4 separate regions of the Homo sapiens genome follow, and all the other regions are reported to be linked to region 4. The links are microRNA targets in miRTarBase. Many come from high-throughput screens and were not tested one by one. Region 4 holds a microRNA gene; each other region holds the end of a gene's coding sequence.

Region 1 (5,204 bases), not on the chromosome of region 4:
AATTTTTTAAAATTTAGTTTAATATCTGTCAAGTTCACTTTTATTACAAATATTACCCTTAGATGCATTTTCAAGCCTTTAAGGAAGAGATGTGGCAGTGGAACAGATACAAGAACTACTGAGTGTGTCATAAGGGGCGGTTGCCACCACTTCCTGTGCATGTCCTCTGAGTGACAGTGAAGAGGATGTGTGTGGGTAATGGCTCCCCGTATACCTGGGGGGCTATGTCACATGCAAGACAGAACACTGACAGGAACACCCCAATTGGAGTGGGTACTAATGTGAGCCAGGGCGCTTTTATCTTTCTTGAATGTTAATAAGGAAAGCAAGCTCAGAGGATGGTTTTGAACACTGAGGAAGAAGCACTGGCTTAGCTTCCTACATTGTGATGTTAATAGGTTTGGAAACTGGTTGTTTGGTAAGTTGCATCTGAAAGGTTCACCAGGTCCCAGGAAGTCTCTAGTGACCTAGAATTCAAGGTTGGATAGTTTCTGAACTCCTAAATATTGTGAACTGGCTAAAGGCAAGCTCTCTGAGTTAACCTAGGATTTTCTCTAGCATTCCACCCGTTAAGCAGAAGGTTTAGCACATGGAGAAGGAACAGAAATCAAGTATGCCTACAGAATGTGTAAGTTTGTTAGAATTAAAATTTGTCAACCAAGAATAAATGTTTAATGTTTTGGTATACCTTCAAAAAAGTTTAAAATTTGCATTAAGCCACAGAGTTAAAGATATCAGAATAATATGTTTGTTTTGCTCATATTTCTATAAGACACCAAAAATTACAATAAAATTCCTATTATACATTTTAGAATACTACATATGCACTGAAGATTAATCTTTTACAGTATCAGAAAATTCCATTATCTCATATAGTTACAATAGAATTTAAATTCTGGTTTAGCCCTCTCACAGATAAAATTAAGTATAGTTTTTATTGTGTTTAGATAATTTTACATTATTAAAATGTTTTCAAGAAGTACACTGGGACTGAAATCAAAATATTTTGGCAACTTGATTCAGAATTAAAGGTTTTTTGTTTGTTTGTTTGTGAGACAGGGTCTTACTCTGTCACCCAGGCTGGAGTGCAGTGGCATGATCTTGGCTCACTGCAACCTCCGCCTCCCAGGTTCAAGTGATTCTCCTGCCTCAGCCTCCCGAGTAGCTGGGATTACAGGCGCCTACCACCACACCCAGCTAATTTTTGTATTTTTAGTAGAGACGGGGTTTCACCATGTTGGCCAGACTGGTCTTGAACTCCTTACCTCAAGTGATCCACCCACCTCAGCTTCCCAAACTGCAGGGATTACAGGTGTGAGCCACCGCACCCGGCCAAAGGTTATTTTTTACACCTCTCTTTATTGAACAGAAATGTGACCTGTGAGACTGTTCATATTCCCCCAAGACAATCCATGTGCTTCCTTGATACACACATTAAAGACCATACAAGAGAAAGTTTTAGTCATCATGAAATCACGTCTATAACAAAAGTAGGACACAGCAGGATAAAACATGACCTCAGGACATCAAAACACTTTCCAGCTCTGAACCTACTAAACTTGACCCAACAGCAGTGGAAGAACTTTTGCCCATTAGTGACTCTCCTGAACAGGTGACCCTGAGGCCTAGAGTTTGGTCTCTAACACTACTGACCTTCAAAGGAAACAGAGTACCTTGGGGATAGCTGACTCCATGACATGGAGCATGAAGAAATCAAAATGGGTATGGAACATCCTGTTGTTTTCGGATAGCATGGATGCTTTTATAGAAGCATCAGAATGATGAAAGGACATTCAGGTCAACATAAAGGGACTCTGACCAAGCTGTGAGACTGAGCATTAAATATAAGCACAATGAGGCAGTTATAACACATAACAGTCTGTGATAGAAGTTTAACATTTTAGTAAGAAGGATGTTTATACAGGTTGAATATCCCTAATCGAAAAATCCCAAATCCAAAACTTTGTGAGTACTGACATGATGCTCAAAGGAAATGCTCACTGGGGCATTCTGGATTTTGGATTTTCAGATTTGGGATGCTCAACCAGTAAGTATAGGTATAGTGCAAATATTCCAAAATCCAAAAAAATCCAAAATCCAAAACATTTCCAGGCCTAACCATTTCAGATAAGGGATATTCAATATGTATTGGGTATTTTATTTCTTCTAATAATTATGTCTGTTTAAAATATTTAGGTATGTAGTTATTTCTATCTGGGTAAGTACCAAAGAATAAACATATGGAAGTGGTAATTTGGCCAAATCTTGACAGAAGGTACTAAAATGGAAAGTGGATTGATTAGCACAAAATAATAGGATGCATGGTGGGCACAAATTATAACCAGGTAGAAGGTGGCATTGGCAGTCATACACAATGACCAAGGAAGAAAGACAATTCAACATGTAATTTAAAATATGAATTACTCAGTGTCCTAAAGAGACAAGGTAACTATGAAAATTAAATCTCTCATTACTAAAAATGAAACCTCTAAAACCAAAAGTCCCAATAAAGAATACAAATATTTTAAATAACATAACAGATCAAAATACCCTAATGACATGCCAATAGGTTAGGTACTGTCAGCCATGCAAAACCTAATACATAATTACTGCAAAAGATACCAAGTTTCAAAGACAAAAATTCATAAGACATGGACTTAAAAATTTACCATTAAAAAAAGTCAGCTCCACACTGTGGCTTAGGTTTGAGTCATCCTCATCTAAATAATCAGACCACGCCCAGATCAAGATTCAGCTGGTCAAAAACCCACTTCCATTCCTTTTCCTTTAGTTCTGGTAAGAACACTGAAACCCAGGAAAGCAATAAAACTGAAAGATTAGGAATATATTAAGAATCATAGTATACTGGTAAATTATTAAACAGGTACAGAAATAATAAATTTTATAATCATTGTTTATATATGTCTTTTATCAGCTGTTTAAGGTGTTTCAAACTTCAGAGAATGGTACTCATTATGGCCAATCATTTCAAGACTCAGCCACACTAAATTTGTACTCACAGTTTAAATTTTTTCAGAAAATTTTATTAGTGAATTTTAGAACGTTTAAATGCTTAAGAAAAATTGGATTTTCTAAATTTGTTTTCAATGCGTGAATTGAATGAAGTGAAAATTAAACAAAATACATATAGTTTTGAGTATTCTATGTCCAAAAGTCCCTCTGACAATTAAACAATCAGTTTACAAATTCACACTTCAGAAGAGAAAGTCCATAATTACTGAATCCTAATAACCCTTATTAGAATCCAAAGGAATAAGTGATTTTAAAAGCACATAGAAAGACAAAGCTTGAGGTTATCTATTCTGACCAAAAACAGTATATAATTTCCTTGGTTTTAAAGACAAGTGAATCACAACTTAGTAGGAATCACATTTCCATATTAACCAGCTGGGTAGATGAGACATGATGTTTGATTGAGACTACCACATAGTCTCTCTTCTTCATTTATTTTATTTTTAGAGACAGGATCTCACTCTGTCACCCAGGCTGGAATACAGTGGTGTGACCACAGCTCACTGTAACCCCGAACTCCTGGGCTTAAGCAATCATCCTGCCTCAGCCTCCCCGAGTAGCTAGGACTACAGGAGTGAGTCACTGTGCCTGGCTCATACTCTCTCTTCTTCTAATCACAGTATTTTACTTGGTTGAAGGTAGGCCCCCAAGAGAAAAAAGAATCTGAAGTACAAAATGTTGGCTCAAGAAAGAAAGGACAACTCAGAAGGTCAGTACTTCAGAAAGGTACTGTTTGACCAGTGGCCAGATCTCTAAGAACATCATGGAATTGTAAGGATACCTCTCAAAGAAAGAAAAGCATTAGTCACATTTAACCTGATCCACACAAATCAATACAAAAATAATACTAGAAAAATAGTCTGATTTTGGCAAATCATCCAAGTGATTATATTCACTGTACTTAGCCCATTCCAGGTGAAAATACAAAAAAAAAAAAAAAAAGTAGAAAAGAGTTCATCTGCCTTGTTAGATTTATGAGTGCTACCTTCTTGACATTTGTTCCTGAGTGAATGAAAGAAGAAATTAATCTAGGGAAGAACCTCTCCCCCTTAAAAACAAAACAAAACAAAAAACAGAAACAGCTTCAGGAACAGGAATACAAGTACTCCATTTGTAAAATTAAGCACAACATAATTAATTCAGCTCAGCTGCTGGTATCACACTGACCTCAACTGATTATACAACTTTTTAAGTCATGAAGATTAACCTGAAATTAGAAAGCCTTAAGGGGGAGCCAGTATTCAGAGTGATCCTCAATATGGCCAATTGTTCTATACATTTATAAATACCATATTGATATCCTGAAGGTCCTCTGTGGAGTTGAAGAAGGTGAGATTTGACCAGAAAGCTTTTCCCAACTATGACTTTTTTCTCATCTCTTCATCCCAGTCACAATCAAATGCTTCATCACCTAGTTCTGGTAAAGTGAAGAGGGATTCTTTGGAAACAATCAGTTTCTCGGTGGACCCACGGAGCTGAAAAGATTTCCTTTTACTGACACGCATTGGAGCTGTGGTTGTAGGAGGGGAGCTTGGGCCTCTCTCACCTCGGTTCTTCCTTTCAGGAGGAGGGGATTTTGATTTGGATTCCGATGGGGGAGTAAAGCAGAAGTTTGCCAATCTGGCTAATGTGCAGGCATGAACCTTGCCGCTTTTATTACTGCCTGAAACCTCTTCCTTTTTGTCTCCCTCACAAGTAAGATGAGCACACCCAGTCTCGTTCCCAAGCTCTAATTCAGGCTGAATAATCCTCTTCTCAGGGGCACACATCACCTTCTCTCTTGGTCCGTGTTTCTCTGGTGGCTGCTGCGACACCTCCTTTGTCTCACCCTGTGGCTGACTGGAGATCTGGTTTCCTGGGGTAGATGTTAACTTTCCTGGACGCTTCACCGGCAAGGCTGCGTCTCTTCTTGTTCTACGCTGGGAAATTTTAGGACTATGAACTGCTATTTTAGTTGCACCAGGTGACACATGGCTGTGATCTTCAAAGGAGTGGATCAGTTTTGACTTCTGCTTGAAAGTAAATTTTGCCAGTTTGGCCACAGGGGAACCTGGAGGCTTAACATTTTCAATTGCAGGCTCTTCCACTTGCGCAAGGGATTTCGGTCTCTTTCTTTTGGGTGAGTCCAGCATTCTGTCTGGGCTATGTACAGGAGTGGACTGAGGATGGGA
Region 2 (5,184 bases), not on the chromosome of region 4:
TTTTTTTTTTGAGACTCAGTCTTGCTCTGTCGCCCAGACTGGAGTGCAGTGGTATGATTTCGGCTTACTGCAACCTCCACTTCCTGGGTTCAAGCGATTCCCTTGCCTCAGCCTCCTGAGTAGCTGGGACTACAGGTGTGTGCCACCACACCCGGCTAATTTTTGTATTTTTAGTAGAGATGGGGTTTCAACATGTTGGCCAGGCAGGTCTCGAACTCCTGACCTCAAGTGATCAGCCCTCCTCGGCCTTCCAAAATGCTGGGATTACAGATGTGAGCCACTGTGTCCGGCCTAAGCCGTCTTAATATTAAAAGTGCTCCTAATATTTTCTATTATCGTGGCTTTCTTAGCTAGGAGAGGTTACTTTGCTGTTTTGATTTTAAAGATCATGTTTACCTCCATTTTTTATTTTAAAAAAACAAACATGGCTTTTCATTGTAGGGCTCCAACAAAAGAATCCTCTGAAGAGGAGTATGACTCTGGAGTTGAAGAAGAAGGATGGCCCCGCCAAGCAGATGCTGCAAACAGCTAAACTGTCATATTGCTGTCTTGTATATACAGCTTTTCCTTCTTTTGTTTAGGATCATAATTGTCTCTACAGTCTGATATTAAAGGCATTGGATCTATCTTGGATATCATACATGGTCAGAGAAGCCTTTAGGAGAAGAATCAGATCATGTATATAATTGTAACATCACATTGATTTTACGGAAGATGTTATATGGACTTTAATGACACAATGTTTAGAGATAAAATGTACATTATTTTGGTTCAGTTTTTTAAAAAAAATATGCTTTAACAAAATTCTTAGGAATTCTTTTAAGCAATGCAGGTATTGCGATAACTGTAGATTTTACAATAATGTTACTCTACAAATGGGAAAATAAATTCTTTAAAATTGAATATTGAGATACCATTCTTTAGTGTTACCTTTTTTACCCACATGTGTTTCTGAAAATATTGGAATTTTATTCATCTTAAAAATTGGACCAGGTAGGCCGGGCGTGGTGGCTCACGCCTGTAATCCCAGCACTTTGGGAGGCCAAGGCGGGTGGATCACGAGGTCAGGAGTTCAAGACCAGCCTGGCCAAGATGGTGAAACCCCATCTCTACTAAAAATATGAAAAATTAGCTGGGTGCCGTGGCAGGTGCCTGTAATCCCAGCTACTCGGGAGGCTGAGGCAGGAGAATCGCTTGAACTCGGAGGGCAGAGTTTACAGTGAGCTGAGGTTGTGCCACTGCACTCCAGCCTGGGCGACAAAGTGAGACTCCGTCTCAGGGCGAAAACAAAAAATTGGACCAGGTAGTTTTCAAGTAGTTAAACATTTCATTGAAAAATACCCTGAAGAACTATATTTTGATAATTGGTTTAGCTGTATTCCTAGTCTTATCTGCTAATGCATGACACTAACTTCCCAATTGGTTCTGTAAAAAAGGCCATTTTCTTACCAAGTTGTCTGATTTATTTACCATCTTTTTTTTTTTTTTTTTTTTAATTGAGCGGAGTCTCACGCTGTCCCAAGCTGAAGTGCAGTGGTGCGATCTTGGCTCACTGCAACCTCCGCCTCCCAGGTTCAAGCAATTTTCCTGCCTCAGCCTTCCAAGTAGCTGGGATTATAGGCACGCACCACCACACCTGGCTAATTTTTGTATTTTTAGTAGAGACAGGGTTTCACCCTGTTGGCCAGGCTAGTCTGTAACTCCTGACCTTGTGATCTGCTGGCCTCAGCCTCCCAAAGTGCTGGGATTGCAGGCGTAAGCCACCACACCCGGCCTTATTTACCATCTTTAATCCATTTTAGTACTATGGGTGAGTACATGGAATTGAAGTCTGGCTTAAATCTTCAGAAAGTTATATATCTATTTTATTTTATTTTTTTGAGACAGAGTCTCGCTGTGTCACCCAGGCTGGAGTACAGTGCCACAATCTTGGCTCACTGCAACCTCTGAGTCCCAGGTTCAAGCGATACTCATGCCTCAGCCTCCTGAGTAGCTGGGACTACAGGCGTGCACCACCACACCTGGCTAATTTTTTGTATTTTTAGTAGAGACGGGGTTTCGCCATGTTGCCCAGGCTGGTCTCTCCTGAGCTCAGGCAATCGGCCACCTTGGCCTCTGAAAGTGCTAGAATTACGGGCATGAGCCACCGCATCCAGCCAGAAAGATACATATCTAATTCTAGAAATAGCATGCAGTATCAGTCATAGTAACAGCCATGTGCTGACCTAAATAAAATTTCTTGATATTGTGTATTTAACCTGAAGTATTGAGCTAGTTTTTTTGTTTTGTTTTTTGGTGCTGAACATTTTGGTCTAATTCTTTGGCTTCTTAGAACATTTTAAAAAATCTATGTTTTGCTATCAGCCAAAGTAAATGTGTTCACACTAACATATAAGTTACTAACCTTCATTATACAGCAAAGCTAAAAAGTGGTGGGATATTTGGGGTCTTAATGAAAATTGTATCATTTAATTCCATAAATATTAAAATATTTGGGTACCTTTTAAGCTTTTTTTCTTTCCTTCTATAATGGTGGTACAAGTTCTATATTCATTCAGTTTAATCTCATTTGAAATTGTTTAAATCAGAGTACATGTAAATATTTGTGGGTTTTTTTTTTTGGTTTATAGACTCGAGCTTTCCTTTTACACAGTTTTTTTTAGGGAAAAACTAAAGCTATTAGGAAATTCTAAATCTTGTTGATGAAGAGTTGGGCTTTCTTTGATATAATTAATAAAAGGGATGTATGGTATTTATGGCTGGGTAGGACCAGAAATGCACTTTGTATTACAGAGTGTTAAGGCTGGTTGCTATAGTATGGAACAGAAACACCTCTCCTTGGTCTCCCTAGTAATGGTTCAAGTTCTTCCCAGGAAGTCTTACATATTATAACTTTGTTCATTATCTTTCCCTTATAGCATCATTTTCCTTTTTGTAGAGTGGAAATCAGACTAGCTGCTAAACATATTAAGGTTAATCCTCCAGAAATGTACTGGGGAGGCATTTTAGTCACAACAACTTACATTTGGCTTTGGAAGTTGTTAACAAAGCATAGTCGATGTTTTTAAATCAAACATAATTTGTATCTTGGAACTTACATTTTGACATTTGAATAAAACAAAAAGACTAAATGAAAGCCAACGTGGTGGTGTGTCCATACAGCAATGGTGCAGGAGCACTCTGCATTGACAACAACAAGCACAGCCAAACAGTGCCATTTTTAAAAGGGCACAGATGTCATATGAGCTGCTTCATTCTAGGGATTGATTAATCCTTGGCACTTCCATATCAGATAAATTCTAGCTGTAGATTCCACAGACAATGTCTGTTAAACATTTATCAAAAATCCTTACTTAAATGTCCCGCTTGACACTAGGGACACAGGCCAAGTTTTTCAGGAATCTTACTAGTCTTGTAGGGGAAACAAATACAAACTAAAGTGTATTTTAATAGTGGAAGTGAGATAGGTACCAGGTGTGGTGACATAGAAAGTGATGGCCTAGATAAGTCTGGAAGAACAAGTAGAAATTTGCCAGAAAAGAATAATGAGAACTAAATCAAAATCTCAGAAGTGTAAAACAACAACTAGGAAGCTGTAGGAGGTAAGAAATAAGCAACAACTGTAACTTCTTGTTAATACTCTGAAATGACCATTTAATATTCTCCTCTCCATCTAGCTAAGGATCTTGCTTCACATTTCATTGAAAAACCATTGATGGAATTCATCATCCCACCATCTATAAATCTATCTACTCCATCACTCAACCTTTCTCTCTAGTTACAACTGAAGTATCCCTCCTACAAAACTCAGTCACTCCCCACATGCTCTGGGTCTCATCATCCCCTCTCATTTCTCAAGGCCTTTAATTCTTTTGATCATGTCTCTACTATAGTATCTGTGTCCTTCCTTCTGAATTATTCCCAGTGGCATCCAAACACTGCTTAGTATTTCCTGTCCTATAGCAAATCTCCCAAGCTTATTTACGTATCTTTCCAACTACACCATAAGTTCCACAAAGATGGTGACCCAGCCTGTTTTGTTAACTATAACCAGCACCTACCATAGTGCTACATACATCTGGTACCCCATACATTTTTAAAGAAATAATGGAATGGCCAGGCATGGTGGCTCATGCCTGTAATCCCAGCACTTTGGGAGGATGAGGCGGGTGGATCACCTGAGGTCAGGAGTTCGAGACCAGCCTGGCCAAACGTGATGAAACCCCATCTCTACTAAAAGTACAAAAATTAGCCGGGCATGGTGGGGGGCACCTGTAATCCTAGCTACTCAGGAGGCTGAGGACAGAGGATCACTTGAGTCTGGGAGGTGGAGGTTGCAGTGAGTTGAGATCACGCCACTGCACTCCAGCCTGGGTGACAAGAGCGAGACTCTGTTTCAAAAAAACAAAAAAGAATGGAATGTCTTGTATGCCAGGTTAAATTGTAAGTTTTTACAGAAGGTAGTGGGGGGTTATTGAAAGTTTTAGCAGGGGAGTTGAACATGATCAGATGTCCCTTTTAAATTGTTGGGGGCAGGCTCAGGAAAATGAATGGAAGGAAACGTGACTGGAGGCCTACTTAAAAACATTTCTTCAGCACTTGCCCTTCTATCTCCTAGTTCAACAATTTCCTCCACTTTTTGAGGTTAGTTCTCATCAGCATACAAACAAAACAACTTCCTTGAACCCAAATCCTCTCCACCTGTTGCCCAGCTGCTTCTCTTCTGCAGCACAACTAAAAGTTGGTCTTGCATTTTTCCAATTCCCTTCTGAGATTTGACTCTTCTTTTTAAGAGATGGGAGCGGGGAGGGTGCGGTCTCACTCGCCCAGGCTGGAGTGCAGTTGGCACTATCATGGATCACAACATCCTTGAACTCCTGGGCTCAAGCCATCCTCCCACATTGGCCTCCCAAAGTGTTGGGATTACAGGCATGAGCCACCGTACCTGGCTCCAGGCTTTGACTCATAAATGAGAAGCTGTCAGGAGGTTTTGCACAAAGAAGTGATACTTGGTTACAGTGTGAGAGAACAGACTAAGAGGACAAGGAAAAGATGATGGCTTGGGCTAAAGTAGTGGAAGTGGAAGAAGTGAATGGGTAGGTATTTTTGCAAATCTGATTAAAAGTGTTATCCTGTGTTCAGTGGGGAAACTCGTTATTATAAAAATGTCTATTATCCTTAAAT
Region 3 (5,204 bases), not on the chromosome of region 4:
TATCTTGCATAAAAGGGCCCACACTGGAGAAAAGCCTTTCGAGTGCAAAGAGTGTGGGAAAGCCTTTAGCAATCGGAAGGACCTCATTCGCCACTTCAGCATCCACACTGGAGAGAAGCCCTATGAGTGCGTGGAGTGTGGAAAGGCCTTCACCCGCATGTCGGGCCTCACGAGGCACAAGCGGATTCATAGTGGAGAGAAGCCCTATGAATGTGTTGAGTGTGGGAAATCGTTTTGCTGGAGCACAAACCTCATTCGACATGCCATTATCCACACTGGAGAGAAGCCCTATAAATGTAGTGAATGTGGAAAGGCCTTCAGTCGCAGCTCGTCCCTCACTCAGCATCAAAGGATGCATACTGGGAAAAATCCCATCAGTGTAACAGATGTGGGAAGACCTTTTACAAGTGGACAAACCTCAGTTACCCTTCGAGAACTTCTTTTAGGGAAGGACTTTTTGAATGTAACCACTGAGGCAAATATTTTGCCAGAGGAAACATCTTCCTCTGCATCTGATCAACCATACCAAAGAGAAACCCCACAAGTGTCTTCACTGTGAGAAAACCTTCTGTTGCTGAATATTACTTGTCATCTGAAGAGTCATATTAGAAATTCGTTCAGTCTAGAGCCTTATTCTCCATCTGATAATTTATCCTGGAGAGAGACCCAGTGGTTATTGTGCACATAGGAGAACCTTCAGCTGCATCTTTCTCCTTAGTTTACAGTGCAATTTTATCTCAGGAATTATTTTTAAAAGGAGGAGGGGACATAGAAAAAATGAAATGCAAGCACACATCTTTTCAGGCTTCTCTGCCAAGCCTATGGCGCTTTGTCATGGATTTCTTAGTGTATTTGGGGGAAGGGAAATGTTTCAAGGTAAAGAACCTTGACCCTTTATGTGCTTGTATGTACATTTATTGCTATCCAGTGTCAGAACAGTTAGTTTAGGAAAAGTATGCAAACTTTAATCGCACATCTTCTGTATTCCACAATAGTACTTACTCTTGAGAAGCATAACTTTATGACAACTTAGGGGGCTTGAGCCATGAAATACTCACGTTTAAGTCAGTAAGGATACACATGTTAACATTCAGGCTTTTGTCTTGATGCCCGTCTTTTGGTTTACGTCATCATTGTAGCCATATGGTAAATTTTTATTTGTTAAATTTTTAAAAATTACTTAGCTCAAAATGTCAGTGGTAAATTTTTAAATTGAGTAAAGTGATTCTTCTTTGCTCTTATTTAAAATCGACAGCATTTCTAGTTCCTTTGACATTCCATATAATTTTTAGGATTAGTTTGTACTTATTTACAAAACAGTCTTGTTCAGATTTTTACAGAAATTGAGTTAAGTCTGTGGATTAATCTGTTAAGAATTGGTATCTTTACTATGTTGGGTCTTGTAGTTCATGAGTGCAGGAGTAGGCCTCTTAATTTATAATAGTTAAGCATTCCTTAAAGTATTTCATTAATGTTAAAAATTTTCAGCGTATAGATCCCTATGCATTTTTGTTAGAATTTGCATCCTAGGGTGCTTTTTTGTTTGTGTGTGTGTGTAATTTGAGTGATTGTAAATGGCATTGATGTTTGAACTTTGAATTGCACACAATTTTTGGTAGTATACAGAAATATAATATTTTTGGACATTGTTTTGCTACCCTGCAACCTTATTGAGTTCACTTATTATTTTTAGCTATTTCTTTCGACAGAATCCTTGGAATTTTCTATATAGAAATGTCATCTGCAAATACAGACCATTTTTTATCTTTCATCTTACCTGTAATATACCTTTTATTTCCTTTTTGTTTGTCTTATTGCATTGCACAAGCTGGGACTTCCATTATAGCGTTGAATAGGAATAGTGAGAAAGGCCATCCTTACCTGGTTCCTGATAGTAGGGGGGACAATGTTCAGTTTTTTGTTTTTTTGTTTTTTGTTTGAGACAGGGTCTCGCTCTGTCACCCAGGCTGGAGTGCAGTGGCACGATCTTGTCTCACCATAGCCTTAAGTTCCTGGGCTCAAGTGATCCCCCCACCTCAGCCCTCACCACCCCCCAGTAGCTGGTACTACAAGCATGCACCACCAGTCCCAGCTAATTTTTGTATTTTTTGGTAGAGACAGGGTTTCACCATGGTGCCCAGGCTGGTCTTGAACTCCTGGGCTCAAGCAACCTGCTTGCCTGGGTCTCCCAAAGTGCTGGGATTACAGGCGTGAGCCACAGTGCACAGCATGTTCAGTTTTTCATCATGAAGTATAATGTAAGTTTTATAAAACATATGTCCTCTATAAGGGTAAAAAATTTCCTCTGTTCCCAGTTTTCTGAGACTCTGTGTTGCTATGAATAAGTGTGGAATTTTGTTCAGTACTTTTTCTCCACCAGTTGATGTCATTATGCTATTTTCCTTCTACATCCTATTGATGGAATGTATTGCTTTGATCAAGTTTTGAATATTGAGCCAGCCTTGCATCCTTAGAATAAACCATACTTGTTTGTAGAGTATAATTGTTTTTATATATCATTTGACATCATTCCCTTTGTTTGTATTTTGTTGAGGAAATATTCCTCTAATTTATTGGCTAATAATGTGTAGTTCTTTTTTCTTTTGTTTCTTATGTTCTAAATGTCTTATGTGTGGTTTTGATGTCTAGGTGATCTTGACCTTTCAACATGAATTGGAAGGAGTTCTCTTCTAATTTTTGGAAGACTGTGTAGAATTGGTGTTATTTGTTCTTGTCATGTTTGATGACCTCTAGTCAACCATTGGGCCAGAGATTTTTCTTCTGGAGGCTTTTAAATTACATATTTATTTTATTGGATAGGTAGAACTATTCGAAGTATCTATTTCTTGTGTAATAAATTTTGATAGTCTGTCCTGTTGAAGGAATATTTCATCTGTATTTGTAGCACTCCCTTATTCTTTTGATAGCAGGATCTGCACTTCTTTTTATTTTTAATATTTAAAATGTGCATACTCATTTTATGATTGAGTCTTCTTAGACATTTATCAGTTTTATTGCGCATCATGCTGAAAGATGTAATTTTTGCTTCATCTCTCACTTCAGAGAACTAGCACTTTATATTAATGATTTGTCTCTATTCTTGATTTCTTTGATTTCTGCTCTGATCGGTATTATATTCCACTTGCTTTGGTTGTATTTGGCTCTTTCTAACTTTTCAAGGTGGGGTTTTAGATTATTGATTTGAGATTTTTTTGCTTTTTTAATGTAAGCATTACATTGTATAAATTTACCTCATATCACTATTGGTTTGATCCCACAAGTTTTAATGTTTTCATTACATTTTAATTCTAATAGTTTTTATTTTTTGAGACATTCTCTCTTAGCCATGAATTATTTAATAGTATGCTTAATTTTCTGGTGTTTGGCATATTTGTTACTGATTTCTAATTTGTTCCATGTTTGATCTGACTGTTTAAATGTGTTAACATTTTTTTATGACCCAGGATAGGGTCTATCTTGTTTCGTATAGCTGCTTGAAAAGAATGGGTGTTCTGCTGTTACTGGGTGGAGTTTCTATAAATGTCTCTATGATCCTGCTCATTGTTATTCAAGTCAGCTATGTCCTTGCTGATTTTCTGTCCAGCATTTCTGTCAGTTGCTGAGAGGGGTGTTGAAGTCCTGAACATAGGCCGGGTGCAGTGGCTCACGCCTGTAATCCTAGCACTTTGAGACCACTAAGGCAGGTGGATCACCTGAGGCCAGGAGTTCGAGACCAGCCTGGCCAACATGGCAAAACCCTGTCTACTAAAAATACAAAAATTAGCCAGGCATGGTGGCGTGTGCCTGTAATCCCAGCTGCTGGGGGGCTGAGGCAGGAGGATCAGTTGAACGTGGGAGGCAGAGGTTGCAGTGAGCTGAGATCTCACCACTGCACTCCAGCCTGGGCAACAGAGCGAGACTCTGTCTCAACAACAACAACAAAAAGTCCTGAACATGATTGTGGAAGTGTGTTGCTCTTTCAAGTTCTATCACTTTTTGTTTGCAAAGTTCAAAGCTGTATTGTTTGGTACATATACATGTAGGTTTGCCAAGTCTTTGTGGTGAATTGACTCTTCTGTCATTATGTGATGTCATTTTTTTGCCTTTTAATAGTCTTGTCAATACTTTACCTGATGTTCTCATAGTGACTCCTGCATATTTTGATTAATGTTTGCATGGTTAATATTTCTTCATTTTATTTTAAAGCTTACCTGTATCATTACTTATGAAGTCAGTTTCTTTGAACAGCATATACTCAGGCCATGCTTTTTTTATTCATTCTGCATATGTCTCTCTTAATTGGTATGTTGAAATGATTTACATTAAAATAATTATTGATATTTTAGGGCTTAAGTGTGCCCTTAAATGATTTTTGTGTTCTTTTTTATTGTTCCTCTGTTATTTGGGGTTGTTTACTAGTCTTCCTATAGGTTACTTCACCTTTTTTTTTTTTAATAATTTGATTTGATACATATGTAGTGTTTTTTAGTATAGATCCTCCTTGACTTATGATGGGGTTATGTCACAATAAACCCATTGCAAGTTGAAAATACTATGTCAAATATGCATTTAATACACCTACCCTGCTGAACATCATAGCCGATCTTGCCTTCAGAATGCTCAGAAAATTTACATTAGCCTGCAGTTGGGCAAAATCATCTAACACAAGGCCTACTTTATAATAAAGTTACTGCAAAGAATTTTAAATAAAAATTCAAGTGTGGTTTCTACTGAATGCATGTCGCATTCGCACCATTGTAAAGTCAAGTAGTAAGTCGAACCATCCTAAGTCAGGGACTGTCTGTATATATCTGCATTTTTTAGTGATTGTTCTACTATTACAGTGTAAATATATAACTTATGACAGTTTAATAAGTTATCAGCAATTTAGCACTTTACTTCCATTAGGTTCCTTTAGCTTACCTACTAATGTAACTATCTTAAGTAATAGTAATTCCTCTTCAAAAATTGAGCGCTATGTTGCAAGATGTAATTTTTCTTTTCCTTTTTTTTGAGACCAAGTCTCACTCTGTCACCCACGCTGGAGTGCTGTGATGCGATCTCGGCTCTCTGCAACCTCTGCCTCCCGGGTTCAAGCAATTAACTGCCTCAGCTTCCCTAGTAATGGATTACAGGCGCCCGCCACCACGCCTGGCTAATTTTTGTATTTTTAGTAGAGACGGGGTTTCACCATCTTGGCCAGG
Region 4 (5,000 bases):
CTTCCTCCTTCGGACTGAAGCGGCAGCTGCGGAAGGCTCCGGCGCGGTACTGAGGAAGAAGCGGTGCTCGTGTCGCTAAACCAGGCGGCAACCCGGGTCTCTTCCGCGCTGCCAGGGGAGGGGAGGCGGCGGCCCCGCTTACCTCCTCTTTTCCTCTTCCTGGGTCTTTTCAGGCTGCGGCTTCTGCCCGTCCAGGGCCACTTCTCCCGGGACAGTCAGGTTTGGGAGACTCCGGATTTTGTTTTTGTAAAGTTTCCTCTGGGTGGAGGCTGCGGCCGGCCCCCCGGGTCCCCCCCGGCCCCGCCGCCCTCGGGACTGGGGCGGGGGAGGGGGGCTCTAGGAACTCCTCCCGGAGTCCAGCCAAGGAGCCGGGGGGCCGGCGACTGGCCAAGGGAGAAGACCCCCGGAGGGGGCTGAGGGGAGGGGGAAGGTGAGGAAAGGACGGCGGCGTCGGTCCTGTTCTCTCCGCCGCCCCAGCCGCCGCTTCACATCGGGGTCCCCGCCCCCCCGGCCGGGGGGTGGTTGCCGAGCTTGGTTGGGGCCCCGGTTCATACACTCCGGGGCAAGATGCTACGGCCCCGGGCGGGTGGCCGAGTCGGCGGCAAGGCGAGGGACCCGGCCGGCTCCGCTCGGCGCCGCCCCCGCTCCCGGCTCCCGCATGTGTCGCTGCGGCTGGGACCCCCCTCCCTACACCTTGGGGGTCTCGCCCCACGCCCCACGGGACGAGGCAGAAGCTCTGGCGCCTCCTCAGCGTTCTCTCACCGCGGAGCAGCTACCCACTCCCGGCCCGTGGTAGCCGCCTCCCTGCCCCCCAAGCCGCCGGCTCCGGCTCAGGCTCGGGCTCCGGCTCTGGCTCCGGCTCCGGCGTGTGCAGCCGCCGCTGCCGGCCGGGAAGGTGAGGGGGGGAAAGGAGTGCGGCCGCGGCTCCCGCTGGCCCAGGTGAGAGCGAAGGTCTCGGCGGCGGCCAGTGCAGGGGGACTGGATCTCTCGGATGCTCCTTCGCTCTCAGTCTCAGCGGCGGCGGCGGCGGCAGCGGCAGCGGCAGCGCCCGGAGCTCAGCTCGCTGTCTCCCTCGCTCTGTGCGGGGCTCTCGCCTCACTCCAGAGAGAGGGGCGGGAGGAGAGCGGCGCCTGCCGATGACGCAAGTCACCTAGCAACCGCTCTCTTCCCCCTCCCTCTTCTTTCCGCTCTGAGGCTTCCTCCGCTGGCCTTTTTCCCCCTTCCAGCCACCCCGCCCTGGGCGCCTCTGGCGCGCTCTGATGACGCTCCAAGGGAAGAGGAAGTGGGGATCGGCGAGCGGGTGGGTGCGCCTCGGGCCGCGGGACTCGCAGCCGCCACCGCCGCTGCCGCCTCTACGGCCGCGTCAGAACTGAAGAGAGGAAGGGGAGGAGCCGAGTCGAGCCTAAGCTGCCGCCCGATCTTACCCCTGACCCGAGGGCGGCCTGGAGAGCTTGGTCTGTAGCGGTTTCCTTCGGGGCAGGTGGGGACTGCTCCTTTGGGAGGAAGGAGGAGGCCCAGGCCGCGTCTTCAGGCAGCTGCGCGCACCACCCGAAGGTGAGGCATTTGGCCCCAAACAGACCCTCGAAAAGCCGGACTGATCGAGGAGTTACCCTACAGCCTGATCTGCACCTGCTCCAGGGAGAGAGCGCCCCACCCTTCCCGTGGCGTGGGGTGAGACCCAGCGTTGGATAACGTGTGGTCGGGCCGAGCAAATGTTTGATGAATGAATGAATGAATGAATGCCTCTCTCACGTGGCACTCGTGAAGCTCAGAGGATATGGTGGAAGTGCAAGCGCTTTGTAAACTGCAGTGCATTGTAAAAATGAGTTGTAATACATTCCTCCCCTCCCCCTAGCCATGAAAGGAAACAGGGGTGCGGCTTGAGTACAGAGTCACAACCTGAGTCTTTAGTGGAAAAGGAGACGAAATGCCGAGCAAGGGAAGGGACCCATCCTCGCGCAGATTGTTAGGGCGGCGGGAAGGGAGGATTGGAAGGGAGCCATCCTCTGGGAGATTGCTGAAGGATTTTTGACTGTCAGGGGAAGAATTTAATAGTCCCTCACTTTTACGAATGGTTCTTTCTTACGGTTTGGAGCTTTCGAGAGCTTCTGGTCTTGGTTCATCAGTGTACGTTGTCATCAAGAAATGTTGGCCTGTTTCAGGTCTGACTCAAAGGTTATTTTCTTTCTAAAATAAGTGTTATTACTATTATGCAGCTTTTCCTACAGATGTTATCCTGGAAAGGAAAGTTAAGTAGAAACTCATGAAGTTTAAAGTGTAGTTCTCTAGGAAAACAAATTTAAGATAAAAGGACCAGAATCCTCAGAAATCTGTCTTCAGTGAATAGTATGAGAAAAAGATTAAAGCAGCAGCAATGATGAAAGCAGATTCCACAATTCTGTCCCTGGACCCTAGTACACTCTACCTCCTTGGGAAGCAGTAGTAATGGATTTTACAAGTCTTTCCACCTGGAGGAGGGGGTAAGGTAGGAGCAAGTGTATTATAGACAAATGTGGGAAGCTCTGGGTTTCTCCCACTACTGCCACTACCATCTGCAAACAGTAAACTAAGGAAACTTTTAACTGGGTAAATCCAAGGGCTCGTGTTCATTAAAATGCTGCGGGAAAGGTGGTGAGAGGGGCAAAGGAGGATGTGGCAAAACCAAGGAGAGACTCACAGACTAGCACCTGACCCTACTGCCCTTGACCTGAAGTTCCAAGAGCCAGGTTAAATATCCTGCTTAAATTACCCTGGATTTTTCTGTCTTTACGTGACCAATCCCCTGCTACAGCCTTCCAAATAAGACTCACAGGTAATCAGACCAACAAGTGATGGTCTCACATGGCTACAAAATAAATATTTTTTGTTTTTCCCCCTCTTCCTATCTTACAACAGGGGAATGGTGGAAATTAAAGGAGTAAAACACACAGATTTAGGGGATTTTGTGAAGCTAAACACCTCAGAGAGTTTAACCTTTGTAGGCTTTGAAGGAAAAGAGTGCAAACATCAGAGTTCTGCAGCCCAGCAGAGAACACCTCCAGTTAAGTGTGTACCACATAGGGTTTTTCAGCAGCGTGATCTTCTGTTTTCATTGTCAGTGGCTCCACCTTACAACCTCAGTGCTGAGGAACAGAAGGGCACTCAGGAGAGCCTGAGCCACTTACTTAGAAAGTATTTAATAACAGCACACTAAGCTTACTGGGCTAGATACCCACCTCAGCACCCAGCTTGATAACAGGAGGAAACAGCTGGAACTGGAGACTGGAGAGAAGGAAGTTCATACATTTCCAACTTGGTCTGCATCTCTTTAGTTCCTTGTATTGCTTATTAATCCAGAGGAGAAAACAGCTAGTTAATTAAAAATTCCAAAAAATCTGAAGTTTTAGCTAATAGTTACTTCCCTGGTTCATCAATTTAAGATAAGGATCTAAATACTGTGTTAAAATATAGAAAAACGGAGACTCTTATAAGGTTTTTGACCTCTACACTTGAAAGTGAGCTCTTACAAGAAACTAATCAGTGTTTCGTTATTCCATATCAGTGGCTTTTACTGTCAAAGATTGTGTAAGCTAAATTATCTGGCAAAATTTTGCTTTCCAGAAATACTATCTATATTAATTTTAACATTTTTATTGTGAAATATAGTTTAAATACATAAAGCAATTATATAGTATAAGTGATTATAAAGGAAACCACCATGTAACCAATCAACCAGGTCAAGAAATGGAATATTTCCAGCAACTCAGAAGTTCCCCTCCCTGCCATGACCTTCCCGAACACAACTCTTTCCCTCCCTCCTAAGTGTAGTCATTATTCTAACATTTGTGATAATCATTTCCCTGCTTTTCTTTGTCGCTTTGTCGCAAGCATGCATCCCTAAACAATATATTGTTTAGTCTCACTCTTTCTTTTGAACTTTATGTAACTGGAACAATATAATATGTAATCTGTTGTTCTTGCTGCTTTTGCTCAACATTGTTTTTAATTCATATGTTGTTCAGGTTGTTCCTATAGCTGTAATTTGTGCATTTTCATTGCTGCATATTACAGTGTCCCATTATAACAATATGTGACAATATGTTTAGCCATTCTATTGCTGATGGACATCTGGGTTGTTTCCAGTTTAGGATTGTTATAAATGCTAATGTGAACATTCTTCATATATGTATTCCATCACATCTACGTCAGTTTCTGTATAACATATACCTGGGAGTGTAATATGTATCATAAACTTGAATAAATAATGCCAAGTTCTTTTCTAGAGGGTTACACAGTCACACTAGGTATATATGAGTCCCATTGCTCCACACCTTCACAACACTTGACATTATTGGTCTTTTTGGTTTTGCCAGTCTGGTGGGTGTATGGTAATATATCATTGTGGTTTTAACTGTCATTTCTCTGATTACTGATGCTGTTGAGGACCTTCTTGTATACAACTAGCTATTTGGATTTACATTTTTGTGGCGCGTTAGTATCTTTTCAATGTCTAAGTCTCTGAGATGCCCAACTTTTCAATATCCTTTCATAGTCCACATTTGAACAGGTAAAGTAATGTTATGGGATGTTTAGGGTGTCGCTTTTCTGGCCAGAAACCTCTGTAGCCTGTGGCGCCTTTGCACAAGTCTTGCTCAGGCCCACTGGGCTCATTCCACCTACTTGGCCTGGCAGGCTGTGCTCAGCTTATGCTACCGGCCTGGATCCCACACCTGCCAAGGGCAAGTACGGCGTGGAGTGGCAAGGCATGTGTGAGCGAGCGTGAGGTCTGGCTACTGCGCAGTCAGACACACCAGCTGCTGCAGTGGGGCGGGCAGCTCCAGATGCACCAGCTCTCTGCAAGGCTGTGGCTGGACCAGGCATACTGCAAGCAGCTTCCACAGCTGGCACCAGGGAACACATTGGCACCCGGAAGCTTGGAGACGCCAGGAACTGCAGGGACCCAAAGAGGGAGTCACAGTGTTGGCTTGGGGAGCTCCCAGGTCTGGGCTCCCCAAAAGGCC

Evidence for each region. The annotated mature microRNA hsa-miR-4453 reads GAGCUUGGUCUGUAGCGGUU and lies in region 4 at 1,448-1,467, shown strand. An mRNA with a match to its seed (bases 2 to 7 or 8) in the 3' UTR can be bound and repressed. Matches are read on the target gene's strand: a 7mer-m8 pairs with bases 2 to 8, a 7mer-A1 pairs with bases 2 to 7 and ends in A, and an 8mer does both.
Region 1: the mRNA of MCM9 is a reported target of hsa-miR-4453. The part of its 3' UTR that is shown has no 7-base or 8-base seed match.
Region 2: miRTarBase lists CLPX as a target of hsa-miR-4453. Seed matches in the 3' UTR shown: 7mer-m8 at 1,519-1,525.
Region 3: miRTarBase lists ZNF264 as a target of hsa-miR-4453. The part of its 3' UTR that is shown has no 7-base or 8-base seed match.

Annotation. Positions count from the first base shown.
Region 1 is chr6:118,810,433-118,815,636 of GRCh38, forward strand. It overlaps MCM9 (minichromosome maintenance 9 homologous recombination repair factor), which reads right to left. Exons shown (of 14, transcript NM_017696.3): 14 at 3,023-5,204. The coding sequence ends at 4,392. Among named protein-coding and RNA genes, the nearest start is that of ASF1A, 81 kb to the right of the region's middle.
Region 2 is chr15:65,146,171-65,151,354 of GRCh38, reverse strand. It overlaps CLPX (caseinolytic mitochondrial matrix peptidase chaperone subunit X), which reads left to right. Exons shown (of 14, transcript NM_006660.5): 14 at 442-3,136. The coding sequence ends at 532. Among named protein-coding and RNA genes, the nearest start is that of PDCD7, 15 kb to the right of the region's middle.
Region 3 is chr19:57,212,423-57,217,626 of GRCh38, forward strand. It overlaps ZNF264 (zinc finger protein 264), which reads left to right. Exons shown (of 4, transcript NM_003417.5): 4 at 1-5,204. The coding sequence ends at 559. Among named protein-coding and RNA genes, the nearest start is that of AURKC, 16 kb to the right of the region's middle.
Region 4 is chr4:152,534,985-152,539,984 of GRCh38, forward strand. MIR4453 (microRNA 4453) reads left to right here and starts at 1,444; the gene lies at 1,444-1,532. It overlaps FBXW7 (F-box and WD repeat domain containing 7), which reads right to left and starts at 1,108. Exons shown (of 14, transcript NM_001349798.2): 1 at 143-1,108; 2 at 1-49. MIR4453HG (MIR4453 host gene) reads left to right here and starts at 1,280. Exons shown (of 1, transcript NR_033797.2): 1 at 1,280-4,279. RefSeq lists a silencer at 144-933 and enhancers at 803-1,338, 1,044-1,403.